Homo sapiens: one gene and its partners. The protein of the gene in region 3 purifies or fractionates together with the protein of the main gene of each other region. This does not show direct contact. Each region holds a gene or a part of one and is shown on either strand. Other genes may lie near its edges. The genes, in order: ABCF2, FTO and ZC3H15.

Region 1 (3,268 bases), on a different chromosome or scaffold from region 3:
GGTACAAATGGGTATATGAAGGGTATCCTTCATATACCCATTGTAGGATGTATCCTTGTAGGATGTATCCTTTAATTGGGAAGAATGAGAGAAAGAAACGGTGTGAAAGGTAGAGTGGAATCAGTGTGAGCGGAGTATAATGAGGCTTGGACTGAAGGCAGATGAGCAAAACGCCTGAGCCTGGACTAGATGCAGATAGCAGAAGCTCCCCAGGTGGTGAAGAGGCTGACAGGGAGGAAGACCACTGGAGGAGGTGAGAAGCAGAAAAGCAATAGGTGCTCACCAGAAAAGCAGACGTGGCGGTCTTGGGAGTTAGCAGTAAAGGGAAGAAAAGCCCATTGCAAAATGGAGAAAGTCAATTGTCTCACTTAGCACCTATGGGGGAACAAATACTTCAGGCCCTTGAATGCTGTGATTAAAGAAACCTGGAGCAATATGAAAGGTATAGGGGCTTGGGGGAAAAGAGGATGTTACAAATTGAGAGGTGGGAGAAGGGTTCCAAAGACCAGCATCACCTGCTGGCTGTGTTAAAGCTAGCAACCCCTCAATCAACTTACCTCTCCACCCAGCTCTGAACGGCTGGCCACATCCTACGGGCTAAGGTTTAAGAGAATTAACAGGCCACTTCTCAATCCAAAACAAGGCACTGCTAATTTTAGAAATATGTATTTTGTGGACTTTTAAAGCATTATTTAAATTACCAAGGTTGACATTTTTCTTGACAAATAAGCTGACTAGACTATTTCCATTCCTCCAGGTTCTGAAGATCTCCTGTCCTAGTATGGAGACTCTGGAGATCCCGAGACTACCTGAATTCTTAGCAATATCCAGCACTTCCTTAAGTATCAAGGGCTCTGTCCCTCACTGTCCCCATTATCCCAGCAGCCCACTCTCCAGATGCCATTCTCCCCTGAACCAAGGCTCTGGACTCTCAGGACAGACTAACCTGGGCCATTTTGCTCCAGGCCCCACTTAAGGCATAAAGCAGTCAAGCCAGTACCCTCTGGGGTCAGAGGACTCCCATCTGTCTCAGCTGCAGTGTCTCACGGGAGGCTCCTGTCCCTGTTGCCCAGGGCAGCTCCTGGACTTTGTGGCCATCTGAGAAGATCCTACTCATTTTTCAAGTGAGAGCACACCAATTCCACCTTTCTGGGCAGCTACTCACAAGAAATTTCCCTCCTTTTTGAATACTTCTGTCTCCTATCTAAATCACAATTTAGCATCTAATTTGTGTCCTGTATGGTTCTGTCTTACTGGCTTTCCAAGAAGATCATGAGCTCCTAAGGGGTTTAAGCACCATCTGGGACAGTTGCTCCCGCCAGTCCTGGCTGTATTATGAGTACTGAAAAATCATGGCTGTGTCTTCCCATAGGGATGGCTGATTTCAGAGGCAGAGTGATGAATCCACACCAGGAAGGATGGCCACTGGTGAAATGCTATTGAAGTTCAAAAGACCCAGATAAGGTATGCAGAGCCCTGGGCTGGAAGTGAATTCAACAGTGATGATAACTATGGCTGTGGACAGGTAAAAATACAAAATTTCCTGTATCCCAATAGGAAGAGAGGTTCACAGACGTTGGTGTGAAAATGCAAACTCCTGGCCATCTCTGCACCTCTCTCATTCTACCAAATGCGATTAATCAATAGGTCTGATGCTCAGCAATCTGAATTTTTTTATTTTTTTGAGACAGTGTCTCGGTCTGTCATCAGGCTGGAGTGTAGCGGCACGCTCTGCTCACTGCAGCCTCAACCTCCTGGGCTCAAGTGAGCCTCCTCTTATCAGAGCAGCTGGGACCGCAGGCACATGCTACTATGCCCGGTTCATTTTATTACTATTTGTAGAGAAGGGGTCTCCCTACTTTGCCCAGGCTGGTCTTGAACTTCTAGGCTCAATTGATCCTCCTACAGTGGCCTCCCAAGGTGATGAGCTTACAGTCGGATTACAGGTGTGAGCCACTGTGCCTGGCCAGTCTGCATTTTTTTGAGACAGGGTTTTGCTCTGTCATCCAGGCTGGAATGCAGTGGTGCAATCTCAGCTCACTGCAACCTCCACCTCCTGGGCTCAAGCGATCCATCCACCCTAGCCACCTGAGCAGGTGGGATTCCAGGCACATAAAGACGGGTTTTGCCATGTTTCCCAAGCTGGTCTTGAACTCCTGAGCTCAAGTGATCCACCTGCCTCAGCCTCCCAAAGCGCTGGGATTACAGGTGTGAGCCACCGCACCTGGCCTGCATTTTTAACAAGCAGCCCAACTGCTGTGCAGTTGGGGCAGAACCTCAGATCACAATCAGAAAACCACGCTCCTGGACAGTGGTTCTCAAAATAGTCTCTAGACCAGCAACAACAGCATCACCTGGAAACTTGCTAGAAATGTTAACGTTCTTGGTCTCCCCCAAAACCTATTGAACCAGAAACGCTGAGGCGAGATCTGGCAATCTGATTGCATGAGCCCTCCAGGTGATTCTGATTCATGTTAAAGTCTGTGAATCACAGGCCTGAGAAAAGGTACAATTTCAAATCAGAAGTAAAGGGACAAAGTTCTTCCAGCTCCTATGGACTAGTCTTCAGTTCCCATCGACACACTGACGCTGGATCCAGCTCCTGCTGTGGGCAGTGCATGTTGGCACTGCAGGGAGGAGAAGGCCCCAGAGACCCGAGAAGGAAGGTAGGGACCGTGGCTTCCTCTTTCTTTATTGGGCGCTTTGTAGATGTCACGCAGGTCTAAAAGTTACACTGCTAAATAATTATTTAAAAACTGACCAGGACGAAGGTCCTGGTCCGGAGCTCCAAACCAGAAGCAAAAAGGAATCGGGGCGGTGGGCTGGGGGGTACTCCTCCAACATCACCAAAACCCAGAAAACGAGGATCCTAAGCTCCTCCGCAGGCCAAATCCAGGGCTTGGGCCCCTGGGCTAACCCGCAGGTGCCTCTGACTGCATCACACTCAGAGTAAGATAACCAGCAAGGGGCTGGAGGGAACGGCCAGCCGAGTCCAGACATGGACAGATGTAACTGGAAGGAGGACAGGAAACAGACAGGTACTGTCCAGCTGTAGGTAAGAGAGTGCAGCTAAGGCAGGTTGAGGGGCAGGGGAGAGGCTGGGGGAGCAGTATTGCAGCAATGCAGGAGTGTAGCCCCAGGGTCCTGTCCTGAGCGGCTGGTCAGGTTAGCAGCTGTTAGTTCCCAGATGGAGCTCCTGACCCGAACCCAGGTAGAGGGCTCACACGTTGTGGGTCCTCTTGGTGAGCTGGGGCTCCTCATCCACCAG
Region 2 (3,657 bases), on a different chromosome or scaffold from region 3:
ACTCATGCTCTGGCAACAAATCTCCTCCTCAGAGCAGCTGCAACATAATTTGGTCCTTCAAACTGAATTTTCTACTTGGTTTCTACCAGTTGTAAAGGTCTTAACTGCCCTTTATCCATATGGCAGTTTTTTAACATAAGGGGAGGCATGGTTATCTTGTAAGCAGGTCATTTCCAAAACTACAGAGTAAATAAATGATCAGCATAGCAACAGGACAGATGCTTATAGCAAAAACAAAAATGTACGTCTAATAGTCAAACTCATAGAATCAGAGAGTAGAAAGATGATGACCAGGGCTGGGAGGATGGGAAAGAGCTAATCAAGCGGCATAAAGTTTCAATTATACAAGATGAATCAGTGCCAGAGATCTGCTATACAACATTGTACCTACAGTTTACAATACTTTATTGTACACTTAAAAATGTGGTAAGAGAGTAGATCTTATGTTGTGTTCTTACCATAATAAAATACATTTTTTTAAATGCAAACCATGGCACCAATTCAAGGTTTAACTTTCAAACATGTGATGGCTTAACAAAGAGCATGCCAAGGACAAACGTTTGGAAACAAGCCCCTACCAACACAAATCTTCATCTCTTGAACCTGTTCTAATCCAACCCAAGGAATCCTAAGAATCCTCCCAGTTTACATTGTGAAATCAACCAGTGAGACAATTTTATAAAATATTACAAAACCAGTTTATAATAGAAGAGTAAATGAATGTGCTTAGCAGAACTCTAAATTCACCTTCTCTAAGGTGTGTTTTTCATTAAGGTTCCAAAAGTACCACCTTAACAAAAGTTCCTCTCCTCTAGAAGTTAGAAAGTCACACTTTAAATATAACTTTAGCAAGAAAACTGCCATAATAAACTAACAACAACAAAATACTCTAAATCTGAAAGGTAAACTGGCATTTTAAAATTGGAAGAGAACACTTGAAAACAAGTGTTGACAGTTGCTAAAGTATGTGTTGAACAGAAGAGTCTTGTTTCTCAAAATTAATGCCCACACCTATGGTATATTAATTTAAAATTCATAAGGTACTTAACCATTTTCCATTACTTCTTTCAAATTCCGGTTCCATCTCTCACTATTAGAAAGTCTACTGACCAATAACAAGTGATGCTCTTGGGAATTCATTCATTCATTGTTTGACAAGTATGGAATATCTACCATGTGTCTGGCAAAATCTTAAGGGCTAGGGATAAAATGGTGAATGACAAAACGGAAAAAAAAAAAAAAACATGATCTCTACTTTTTTGGAGACTATCATCTACATGCCAAAATCTGTATCACTAAACTCAGCCACAGTAAATCTCATTAGCAGCCAAGGATCCAGAATCATAATTATGAAGGGTCACATATATCACATAACAGATGCTGGACTCTCTCAACCATTTAATCTTTCTTCACCAGATACTTATTAATGTCTCCTTTGTGGAAGACATCCTGCCAGGTACAATGGAGAGATGAAAAGATGAATTAGACACAAATGCTATCTTCAAGGAAGCTACTGTTTGCTCAAAGTGTCTAAGAGTTTTTTTGAATGGCTAATTTAGTTTTCAAAACCAGTACTAGGAGGGTTAGGAAACAGCCTGGAAATAACAGAAAGCAACAAGAACTCACTGTTACTCGATAGTTTAGCTGGTTAATTTTCAAGTAAGGTACAGTATTAAAAGTGGTTTGGAAACTATGATCAAATACACTAACTCTTCTTCTATTTACAGAAGTCAACTAAACCTCCGAAACAGTGATTAAAGGCTTACCCATATATTGAAGGAGAGATTAAGCAAAAAATAATAATGGATTTCGGGAAGAAGGAAAAAAAACAGAGTAGAATCTGTCAGGTGAGGTTTTCATTTTTCAAGTCCCCTGGTCTTTGGCCTAACACCAAAACTGTCCTATATTTAGTGTCCACTTTAGATAAACTGGTGACATAATCTAGAATGGCCCATAATAAAAGTAGACTCCAAAAGAACCTTCTCAGGACCTCAATAAAATGCCAAATTTGAAATATAAAATAAGGTAAAAATACCCAGTCAGTAAAAACATAAATAACAAACTTTCTTTTGTTGAGTTATTGTTATTATTATTTAGAGACAGGGTCTCACTCTGTTGCCCAGCCTGGAGTGCAGTGGCATAATCACAGCTCACTGTAACCTCCAACTCCTGGTCTCAAGTGAGCCTCCTCCACCTTGGCCTCACAAAGCATTGGGATTACAGGTATAAGCCACTGCATTTGGCCAAGTTATTATTTTTATAACTCAATAAACCTTATCATTTAAAGTTGATAAGACAACTATCACCAAAAGCAGAAGAGTTTTTAAATCATGTTACTTAAAACGGTAGGTTACATATTCTGGATATTTTCCTTCATTGATAAAAATGTACATTACTCAAACAAAATTATTAAATGTTCTTAGGTATATAACCATTTCCATAATAAACTAGTTCTATTTTTAATAGTTTAAAAGATTATCTAACCTAAGCCAGCATAAGAGTCTTTGAAGCTAACTTGGATTTCAACATCCATAGCTTTTTATTCCATGACTAATGAAACAGTTTTAATGTTTCTGAAAAACCCCGTAAGGAATCCCAGGCCTCTCATAAGGATACACCTTTAAACAGATCTTCTAAGGAAGGAATTCCATGACTACTAGGCCATGTTAGATCCTCTTTGCTACCGTGTCCTCCCGTGATAAAACTCACCACTCTGCTGTTGGTACTTACTTACCTTCCATGGACAGCCAGCCAGTTCCATGGGACTGTGTCTGCCATCTTTACCCTGGTGCTGAGTACACTACTCGACACTTAATCAGGTTCCTTATCTGAACCACAGAACACAGAAAATGGTTTGAGTGACTATATTCTCAATTTTCTGAAAGGTGGTACAAAACTAGTACCATTCTGGCTGCATGGGAAATAAGTTAATGGAACCCCATTTGAGAAAATCCACTTGACTAGACACTCAACATAAGTTTACAGAATAAACGTCCTGGGATCAGAATACATATATATATATATACATACAGAATATATATCTACTGGGGTCAGATAGGCAGTAGTGAAGGTGGTGGTGATGATGGTGATAATGATGATGATAACAATGTTTATTTTTACTGTATGCCAGCAATGTTTTATGTGCTATATAATATCTCAATCCCTACCAGAACCATATCACTCCTATTTGATAGATGAGGAAATGGAGGCTCAGAGAAGTTAAATTGCTTGCGCAAGTAAATGAGGGAGCAGAATTCAATCTCAGGAGTCTGCATCTAAAGCTCCACACTACACCACTATATTGTAACTTAAGGGGCAAAACTGGATGACAGCAAAATGGAAAGCACATTTCCCACCTAAAAGGGAAGCCACTATTCAATTCTAGTTAGGAAAATGCATGCCCACTGTTACCAGATACTTAAGTTTTTCAAGAGAGTCAGACACCCAGATCTTTATGTGAAATCCCTCAACTTTTAAATATTAGAAAATAATTCTGAAACAACTTTTAGTTTGTTTGGGCCAAATAAAACTTACCTACAGCCAGGAGGCATATGTGGATTATAAATATGTGACCTCTAGAGGCCCCATCTTTCCTCAAAAATATACATGCAAAAATGCAAAATCTGGGCTGCGCACGGTGGCTCACGCCTGTAATCC
Region 3 (3,657 bases):
AGTTTTCACCTGCAATATTCTTCTGTGAAAACAACCCACTCCCCAGAAACGTACAGGTTCATTTTGAAGATGAGACAAGCAAACATCCTGAAATGTACAGTCCCACATGATAATGAATTATACCACCCCAAAAACCTATATAGTGCCCTCATGGAAAAACACTGGGTTAGGTCAATGTAGGATATTAAACAAAACAATTCAAAACAAAACATGACATATAACATAGTTCCAGGCACACGATTTACATACCTAATATGATTAGAGGATTCATCCAAACATTTATACGTCAGGTCCTATGTTAGATGACAGAGAATACAATGAAAAGACAAAGATGCTTATTTAAAGAAGCTCAGAATCTAGCAGGATGACAGACATGTCAACAACTGTAACATAGTACATAGTGCTCTGGGAACAAAGAATGCCCATATACCTGAGAAAACTAAATTGAGCCAATAACCTTATGGATGAGTTTTTCTTGATGGGCAAGAAAAGAAATACAGAAAGAGCCAGCCAATGCAAAGTTACAGGGACTAGAGGAATAAAGTATGAGAAACATCAGTAAGATGCTTAGATTGCATCAGTAGCTTGAACAGAGTTCTCTCAACTGTTTAAAGTAACCCAATAACAAGGTCAGGTCACATTTTATAAAATATCAAGAGGGCAAGTTTTGTAGAGGATGGATTGGGAATCCAAGAATAAAGGCAAGAGGCTGCTGCAACTGCTGTACACAATAAAACACAAGAGCTTAAAATGAGCATTACTGGTAAGGATGGAGAAAAGGAGACAGAGCTGATAGGACTGACTGAACATGAAGTATAAAGGGGGAGGAATCTAGGATTATCATGTATATGGTTAGTGCCGTTAAACAAGACAGGGAATACAGGAGGAACAGGTTTCAGGGTAAGAGGTGAAGATGAGCTTAGTTTTAGACATACAGAGTGCAAGATGCTTACAAAGCATCTGGGTAGAGCTCTTTTGAAGGCAGATAGACATGCATATTGATTCCACTGAAATCAGAGAGGGTCTGCTTTGAGATAAAGACTTTAGAAATAGCAGCTTACAGGTAACAATTAAAACTTTGGGTATATGGTACTTAAGGAGAGCATAAAAAAGTGGCAAGAGTAAAGGACACTTCCTTGAAGAAAATCAACATAAAATGGGACAAAAGAACCTAAAAAGTCCAATAAAAAGACCTAGAAACATCAAAGAAGCAGGTAGAAAACCAGGACAAAATGTGTTCAAGAAAGAGGAAATTTTAGGAAAGGAATGGCCAAATGCTATAATTAGGTCAAAGACATCCCAAATCCTGAATATGACTCTATATGGTGGATGTGTTTAAACACAAAAAATGTTTTGAAAGAAAAAATTTAAGTCGCTTAATTTTTAATAGAAGTATCCTTTGCTCATCAGGCCCATCTCAAACATTTGTGGGGCAATGTTTGAGCAAGAATACAATGGAGGTCTACAAGCCATTTATCTAAATATTTAAAATTAGAAATCAAGTTCATGATGAATAAAATATGGTCTGTAACCCTACTCGACAAATATACCTTATGACCTGGAAGGACAGGTTCAAATTTAAAATGCTCAGACTCCATGGAGTTCCACACTGAAGCATGGCAGCAACACAAGAGTTAGCCCTGGGCTCTTTTTTCTCCTCTTCCCACCCCGTTTCATTCCATTTTGGGTGTAGGGGGAGGTAAAGGTGCAAGAAGGAAGGAAAGGGTATGGATGCAGGCTCTGTTCAAACCCTTAGCGTACACTGTTCTCTTGGCTACCTCAGACATATTGGTAGCACAATGGACAGAGATGGGCATGGTGGAGAGGCCTTTGTAGGCAGATAAACCAGGGTCAGAATGTTGTAGGAAGAGATGTTGCAAAATCTGGGTGGGTACATCCCCTTGGCTTCAGTGACTCCTTACCTGAGGGGAGACAGCAGTCTGGAGAAGACACATGTATCGCAGGGCCTAGACCAGGATACCCCCTGTCCAGCTCTAAGAGCAGCACTACTGCTCATTTCCGATGTTATATATGATGGGTAGGTACCCCATGTTCACAGATAAGTCCAGTTATCCACGCAAGTATCAAAAATATAGTATTAAATATACTATCAAAGCTAACTACCAGCACACACATTTCATAACTTTCCCAGGTTTATGAATTCTGATATCACCACTCAAAACACTTTCCACTAGAAGAAAAAGTTGGGGAAGAGAAAGCAGGATTGAAAAAGGGGCTAAGTGAAGAAAGTGAGTTCTTCTTACATATTGATATCTATATTCACCAGAAAATTTACATTATTTTCTTATTTAACCACCAGAAGAATCCAACAAAGAATAACTGCACTTCCACAGTACAGATAAAGACCAGGGTTGCTATTTAAGGATCATGTAACAAAAAAGATAGGAAGATTCACACCCAAGTCTATCTCACTGCAAGGTCTCAGCTGATCTGCCCGCCCCGGCCTCCCAAAGTGCTGGGATTACAGGCGTGAGCTCTAAACATTAATTTTTATTAAACCGGGCTATTAAGTTAGCAGTTTGGAAGAGCAATAGTTTTAGATTCTAGAATCAAGCTGGGAAAATGGATGTGAAAGGAAAGTGTTGGGTCACTGATTTGCAGACAGCATGAGCAAGAGAAATTTACTTATCTCACAAATACATATTAGCAGATTTTTAAAAAATCTGTAAACACATGAGAAATTCTTTCTTCTCTCCTACATTACAAAAATGTGTTTCCAGAAGTTAATGAAAAGGAGATAAAAATGGTGGAAAAATGTACTTTAAAAATAAAGATCCATGTCTATGAAATCTTTACAAGTGAGAGGTCTAAAGAACCTGAAAAAAAAAGGGGCTACATTTTTTTCAAATGAGTTGCCAATGGATAAACTCATTTTAAAATTCGTATGAAAGAATAAATGCCTAAGAACAACCAGGAAAAATAGAAAAGGTATACCATTTTGGGGAAAAGACTTGCCTTGAGACTTTAATGTACAGTCAAGCACAGAATTAATGACATTTAGGTCAATGAGGGACCACATATGACAGTAATCCTGTAAGGTTATAATACCATATTTTTACTCTATCTTTTCTATGTTCAGACACAAATCATTACTAATGTGTTACAACTGCCTACAGTATTCAGTACAGTAACATGCTGTATAAGTTAGAAGCCTTGGATCAATAGGCTATACCATATAGCCTAGGTGTGTAGTAGGCTGTAATATCTAGGTTTGTGTAAGTACACTCTATGATATTTGCACAATGACTAAATCGCCTAACGACACATTTCTCAGATTGTATCCACATCACTAAACAATGTATGACTATGACTGTAGGATAATAGTGGTATTTCAGTTGGATAAATGATGCTGGTGTAAGCAGCTATTCATTTAAAAGAAAACAAACTTAGTCTGGGCATGGTGGCTCACGTGTGTAATCCTAGCACTTTGGGAGGCCAAGGCAGGCGGATTGTGAGGCCACCCTGGGTGACACGGCGAAATCCCGTCTCTACAAAAAATACAAAAATTAGCTAGGTGTGGTGTCATGCGCCTGTAGTCCCAGCTACTTAGGAGGATGAGGCAGGTGGATGGCTTGAACCCAGGAGGCAGAGGCCGCAGTGAGCCAAGATCACACCATTGTATTCCTGCCTGGGCAA

The links.
Region 1: the proteins of ZC3H15 (region 3) and ABCF2 fractionate together in Homo sapiens (co-fractionation; one large-scale study listed by BioGRID). This does not show direct contact.
Region 2: the proteins of ZC3H15 (region 3) and FTO fractionate together in Homo sapiens (co-fractionation; one large-scale study listed by BioGRID). This does not show direct contact.

What each region holds. Positions count from the first base shown.
Region 1 is NC_000007.14:151,210,834-151,214,101, forward strand, and holds the end of ABCF2 (ATP-binding cassette sub-family F member 2), read right to left. Parts: coding exon 3,221-3,268; 3' UTR 651-3,220; downstream 1-650. Other genes in the region: ABCF2-H2BK1 (ABCF2-H2B protein), read right to left, coding at 3,225-3,268.
Region 2 is NC_000016.10:53,710,532-53,714,188, reverse strand, and holds part of FTO (alpha-ketoglutarate-dependent dioxygenase FTO), read right to left. Parts: intron 1-3,657.
Region 3 is NC_000002.12:186,496,255-186,499,911, reverse strand, and holds part of ZC3H15 (zinc finger CCCH domain-containing protein 15), read right to left. Parts: intron 1-3,657. UniProt on the Homo sapiens protein: Protects DRG1 from proteolytic degradation. Stimulates DRG1 GTPase activity likely by increasing the affinity for the potassium ions.